Homo sapiens: one gene and its partner. The protein of the gene in region 2 interacts with the protein of the main gene of each other region in a pairwise test. Each region holds a gene or a part of one and is shown on either strand. Other genes may lie near its edges.

Evidence for each region. The genes of interacting proteins can lie anywhere in the genome.
Region 1: the proteins of COL4A5 (region 2) and NEMP1 interact in binary tests that used the Homo sapiens proteins (3 or more experiments, as listed by UniProt).

The regions. Positions count from the first base shown.
Region 1 is NC_000012.12:57,055,143-57,058,497, forward strand, and holds the end of NEMP1 (nuclear envelope integral membrane protein 1 isoform a precursor), read right to left. Parts: 3' UTR 501-3,355; downstream 1-500. UniProt on the Homo sapiens protein: Together with EMD, contributes to nuclear envelope stiffness in germ cells. Required for female fertility. Essential for normal erythropoiesis. Required for efficient nuclear envelope opening and enucleation during the late stages of erythroblast maturation.
Region 2 is NC_000023.11:108,600,309-108,603,838, forward strand, and holds part of COL4A5 (collagen alpha-5(IV) chain isoform 2 precursor), read left to right. Parts: intron 1-1,084; coding exon 1,085-1,177; intron 1,178-1,576; coding exon 1,577-1,681; intron 1,682-2,655; coding exon 2,656-2,753; intron 2,754-3,530. UniProt on the Homo sapiens protein: Type IV collagen is the major structural component of glomerular basement membranes (GBM), forming a 'chicken-wire' meshwork together with laminins, proteoglycans and entactin/nidogen.

The sequences.
Region 1 (3,355 bases), on a different chromosome or scaffold from region 2:
CTGGGCCTAGACATAATTTAAGTTTTTATTCAATACACATAAGGCTCACTACAGCCCTACTCTCTCTTCCACCCTATACAGAGCTCTTGGTAGGGATCCCATAGCTGGAGCCATAGGTCTTCTCCCCATCCCAATGGACAAACAAAAGAGATACTTTATGCCATAAAAAAAAAAAAAGAACTAAAATATAATCAGAGTAGTTCCTTGGGCCAAGAATAACCTGTATTTTGCTTTTCTATGAGACAGCATGGTAGTACAACCTGCTGCTCCTGCAAGAATACCCCTTAGAGATTTTGCATCCTGGGAAATCATCCAGTCCAAGGATGAAAGTAGACCAGTACAGACTCGGGACAGGAAGGGGTGGCTAAGAAAAAAAGGGAAATCAGTGGCATGCAAAACCATCTCATTAGAAAGATGAAACTGAGGAGTAAATTGCTGATTACCTGAAAACAAGAAATCCAAACAAGAAAATATTATGTTCATTAAGAAAGACCACAATATATCTATAAAACTTTTATTAAAATTGGAATTAGAAACTATACCAAAAACTTTAAAAATACATTAAGACATTGTTCTTTTTTCTTACAGAAAAGAGGGTGAAAATAAGACCCATGGCAAAGAGCCATCCCTGATAATTTTGTTCCTTTCAAACATTCATGAACATTTAAATAAAATTACAAATATTTAAATAACCCTAAGGTATTACCCACAGGCTAAAACTTGCCAGTAATTCCTTAGCCCTGCTATTTCAATATCAATTCCACAAACATGGAAAATTATGGTAACTGCAGGCTGTAACAGTTTCTAATATTCACATTATGAACTATTTGTTATGTTGTCATAAGAATGTGCTCATGCTATAGGCAAATTCAGAGGTGATTTCACCATTTTCAAATTATCATCAAGAGTGTGAAAGAGGAAGATGACACACACGTGGGATGGTGTGGAAATCCAAAGCCCCACATTTTGGGAGTCTGTGACCACTCCCATCTGCCACTAAAGCTACGAGTTGGTGTTGGCATGAATCTGCTTTGTTTATTCCCAGCAGGCTCTGGCTCGTGTCACATAAGGCACCAACATCCTTTTCAAGGTAGTAACCATCTAGAATCAACTCAATTGTAACCTGAATTCATAAGCTTAAGTCACCAAAAGACATCACTGGGTCATAATTATATAGGTTCCCCTAAAAAAATAAAAAAAAAATCAATTTCTGCTATGTAGAAAAAGAAACAAAAGGTTTAGGTGCCTTTGCCTTGTGCAATGGATATTTCATATGTTTATTAATTGGTTTCAGTTAATATGTAATATGAAGGCATGATAAATGTGTCAAACTGTTCTCTTGTTTCAGATACAATTCTTGGCATTTCAATATAGGTTATTATCTCATATGTCAGACTTGAGTCCAGAGAATACTAGAAGGACATTTAATTTCCTTTCCTCCTCCTTCCTTTCACTACTCAATTCAAAGAAAAGTTATGAGTACACAGCTAGGAACCATTTTTACGTAGGCATCCATCTGAGCCCATCTTGTTTTTTTTTTCTAAAACAACAAAAAGACTAAGGACAATTACATAATGCATTCCCAAGCCTTTTATGGATATCAGGGCCTGGGGGGACTATCTGGCCTATTTGGGTTCTTTCATTCACCAAAATTCTATTATACATGCCAAGGGTTAAAGGGAACACCATCAGTCAAGAGACGGCTGGGCCCTAGAATGGAATCTATTAGCATAAAATGGAACAGTGGGACCCAAAGAGCTATCAGCAAAATTCCCTTTGTAACAGACGTAAAAATCATGAATTTGAGGGGAAAAATAAACTAGTTTTGGTGGGATGCAGTGGCTAACAGGAATTACTTATTAGAAGGTAATGAAGTTGCTAAATTTTCCTTGTTTTTGATCCCTGTGTTCTGTTGGTCTCTTGAAGCAATCTGAGTGGGAAAGGAAAGTGAAAGAAATGTTTTATGCCAGCTGCCTCTTGTATTCCCATTAATGGGAGTCTCTACATTAATGCTCTACATAATTTGGTCAGACTGATGAGAGGCAATAGATTTCCAATGCTGATGAGATCCAGAGCCCTGGAGCCCATTTATGGCTTGACATTCACCCAGCAAGACGCTGACGTGGCAGCAAACACGGCTCCAATGTCCAGCTTACCTCATAGTTATCCCTTCAATCCTTCTTGATGAGATTGGTCTGAGAGATGAGACTGTACTGAAATCACAAGAGCTATAACTGCCAGAGAAAAATTAAATGGGGTCTTCAAGTAGTGACTGAGCCAGCAAACTAAGTGGCCAAGAGGGAGACAAGAGCAGCTCCTAAAGAAGGTTGAAGTCAAGCAATCTCCGGAACACAGAGGATCTGAAGCATCTGGGCAGAGCCACAGGCAGGCAGGGCAAGGACACACAGCACACCAGAGCAGCACCGTCCTTCACTGTGTGAGAGCAACTCTCAGGCTGCAGAACCAATTGCCATCTCCACTGCCTACAGCTCAGGTCTCCAACTACCAGATAGGGAGTAAAAAACAGTTTGATTTTATTCACCTCAAGTCTAAACACGGTGGAAAAAAAACTGGTCTAGAGATGGAAACTATATTTCATGGGGGTTTATTAAACAGAGAAAGAGGAGAATCTTTCACAATTTCACAGTGCTTTCTCATTGAAATAAAGACATGATCAGGAAAAGTCACCCTTATAGGCAAGCTATCACCTCCCTAAGTAGGGGAGGCACCAAAATCTCCAGAGAATCCTGAGACCACTTGCACGAGTTGAATTATTTTTTAAAATAAACTTATGCTTAAATATGCTAGGTCTCAATTTCTATAAATAAGGTAAAAAATAGTATATTTCAGAAGTTTTAATAGTTCTTTGTAGAGAGAGAACATTTTACCATGTACATAATTCACAAGGGTATAAAGGTTTCCCAATGTAAAGTTCCTTTTACCCTTCAACTGTAACCCATAGCATCTGCCCAAATACTGCTCATTTTTCACTTTCTACTATATGTCTCTTTCCTGCCAACTGAGGTAGTTGTCACTTAGGACAGTTTAAGGCTCTGGAAAACACTGGTGGAAATAATCAACTGCCCACCTGGAGGGCAGTCTCAGAGCTGACCCTTTGGAAGTCTGCAATGGAGCTAGGCCTTTCAAAATTACCACGCTAAATGGCTGGTCTAAAGGAGTCATTACGGCTTTTTAAAAAATCATCTGCCTTTTTCCATCATCTTGGTGAGCCAGTAAGTCTGGTGCTGTGCGCTTGCCATGACCATCTATCTTCCTGGCTAAGGTAATTACAGACTTTTCCAGGGTATAAGGGTGAAGACCACAAAGAAAAAGAACCAAGTAAATGACAGACACT
Region 2 (3,530 bases):
GTCTTCAATGAGCAGAAAACAACTTTCACATCATCAAAATTATCAATCTTTTCTCTCATGGTTAGTGCTTTTTGTGTCATGTTTAGGAAATCTTTTTTTTCTTGAGCCAATTTCAAGTTCATGTTTCCATTAATAAGAAGTAGATATACTTGAACTTTGCACATGTAAAACCTAAATGTACCTATTAGCCAAAAAAATATTTTCCTTGTTTACTACAGTTTGATTTTTAATGCTCTTTTGGCCTACATTTTAAAAATACTTATATAGGTAACACCCTGTTTTAGGGGTTTCCAGAGAAACAGAACCAATAAAAAGGATGGACAGATGGGTAGATTAGATAGATAGATAGATAGATAGATAGATAGATAGATAGATAGATAGATGAGAGGTGATTTATTATGGGAATTGACTTACATGATTATGGAGGCTGAGAAATCCCACAGTAGGCCACCTGTAAGTTGAAGAACTAGGGAAGCCAGTAGCTTGGCTCAGTCCTAGTCTGAATGCCTGAGAACCTGAGTGGCTGCTTAGTACAAGTCCCAGAGTCTGAAAGCCAGAGAACCTGGAGTTGTGATGTCCAAGGGTAGGAGAGGATGGGTGTACCAGTTTCAAAAGAGAGAGAGCAGAGAATTCACCTTTTTTTCTGCCTTTTTGTTGTATCCGGTCCCTCAGCTGATTGGATGGTACCCACACACATTGGGTGAGGGTGGATCATCCTTATTCGTTTCACTGATTCAAATGTCAGTTTCTTTCGGAAACAGCCTCACAGACATATCTAGAAATAATGCTTTACCAGCGATCTCAGTATCTCTTAATCTAGTCATGTTGAAACCTAAAATTAACCATTATACATCTTGAATCATGGAAGTCCTTAAGGCTGTCATATCCTTTTTCTTTTTGAAATTCTATCCTTCTGTTTTATATATTTCTTGAATATATAGTGGAAGATTGTTTTTCTTGTGAATTTTTGTTAGTTTACATTTTCAAAAGATTGCTGATAATTTTCTTTTTTGTTTTTAATTAAAAAGAGACCTTTAGTTGAGTAAATACTTCTCATTTACCATTGATTTACTCTTGCTTTCAGGTCCTAAAGGGGATCCAGGTCAGACTATAACCCAGCCGGGGAAGCCTGGCTTGCCTGGTAACCCAGGCAGAGATGGTGATGTAGGTCTTCCAGGTATGTGAGGAATTTATTTCAAAGTAACTTCAACACCGATGGCTTTTTTTTTTTTTTTTTTGACAGAGTTTCGCTCTGTCACCCATGCTGGAGTACAGTGGCGTGATGTTGGCTTGCTGCAGCAACCTCCTACTTCTGGGTTCAAGCAGTTCTCCCTGCCTCAGCCTCCCAAGTAGCTGGGATTACAGGCGCCCACCACCACGCCCAGTTAATTTTTGTATTTTTAGTAGAGACGGAGTTTCTCCACGTTGGCCAGGCTGGTCTCGAACTCCTGACCTCAGGTGACCCATTGCCTCAGCCTCCCAAAGTGCTGGGATTACAAGAGTGAGCCACTGCACCTGGCCCTGATGGCTTCTTTCTTTGAACGTTTTCCTTTCAATAACTGCTGTTTCTCCATAGGTGACCCTGGACTTCCAGGGCAACCAGGCTTGCCAGGGATACCTGGTAGCAAAGGAGAACCAGGTATCCCTGGAATTGGGCTTCCTGGACCACCTGGTCCCAAAGGTATGTTGGAATGGGTAGCAGGCAGAGTAGGTTAGAAGTTTAGCATGATGTTATTCTCTCATAAAATTCATTCAACAAATAAAATATATTAATTGCACCTTTTTTCTCTGTGCTATAAAGAATGTAAATAAAAAATCACAGTGTATTTTCACTGTAAGTTCATTATCTTTATCTAAAACAGTCCAGACAAGAAAATATCTACATTTTAGATATGCAAAAGTGATATATAAGCTTAAAAATCACAGGAATTATTGTGTTTTGTGTTCACCATAGTATTTTCAGGGTTTAGAACAGTTCCTAACACATAGTGTGCACTTGATGTTTATTGAGTTAAAGGATTTTTTAAACAGAAAACAGACTTATTGCAGATGTGTAGCCAAGTAATGTTTTATGCTAAATAATATTTTCTTGATTTATTGAAATTTTTAGGGCTTATGCTTCAGTTCTGCTTTATTCCTCACAGAATTTATTCTCACAAATGGCAAGAGCACACAGTGGTCTGAGGACAGTTCTTAAATATATCTTTACTCATTTATACAAAATGCTTTCAAAAGTATCAGGTTTGATTTTATGTGTGTATGTATCTATAATATCTGCAGTTATTTTTAGATCATTTCCAAAATTATATGGTAGGCCCTTTGTCATACTACATCCAGATATAAGCAGAAGAAAAGTTCTTGGGCATTTTTGTGTGGGATTCATTCCTTACAATTTAGTTCTATCTTATTATATAATAGCCCTCATTTTCTTCAGAAAAGCATATGTTCCACATACATTAGCTCTATGTGAAAATAAAAGGAATGTAAGATGATTGAGAGGATTGTAAGGCTTAATCCTAAGTAGTAGAATGTCATTGTGCTTTTGACATCTTACTGTTGTCACTAAGCATGAGTAGAATGTGGGTTTGGGAATTTGAATATCTTTCTTAAAGTGCCTTTCCTTTGGTGGTTAAAAAATGACTTATCATTTTACAGGCTTTCCTGGAATTCCAGGACCTCCAGGAGCACCTGGGACACCTGGAAGAATTGGTCTAGAAGGCCCTCCTGGGCCACCCGGCTTTCCAGGACCAAAGGTCTGGGACATTTTTCTTTATTCCTTCTCATTTTCTTATCTTTCCCACCTTCCTTATTTCTAGCTCTCTATTTTGACTCAGATATCATCCCAAGCCCCAAGTCTTTACTATAAATATACAGATAACTTATTATATTTCCATTAAAAAAATATTTAACCCCAAATCATCTTTAATAGTCCAAGGTCACATTTGGAGCAAAAAAAAAAAAAAAAAAAACCTAATTTCTGTACCTACTTTTGAATGCCCAGTTCTTTGATTAGAGAATACAGGCATACCTTGGAGATATTGCAGGTTTAGTTCCAGACCACCACAATAAAGTGAATATCAAAATAAAGTGAATCACACAACTTTTTTTGTTTCCCACTACATATAAAGGTTATGTTTACACTATACTGTAGTCTTTAAAGTGTGCGATAGCATTAGGTCTAAAAAAAACCATATGCATACCTTAATTAAAAATACTTTATTGCTAAAAAATTTTAGCAATCATCTAAGCTTGCAGCAAGTTATAATCTTTATGCTGGGGGAGGGTTTTGACTCAATATTGATGGCTGCCCACTGATCAGGGTGATGGTTGCTGAAGGTTGGGTGGCTGTGGCCATTTTTTTAAATAAGACAACAATGAAGTTTGCCACATCAATTGACTCTTCCTTTCAGAAAAGATTTCTCTGCAGCATGTGGTGCTGTTTGATGGTATTTTACCCACAGTAGAACCTCTTTCAAAATTGGAGTGAGTCTTCTCAGACCCTGCTGCTGCTTTATCAACTAAGTTTATAT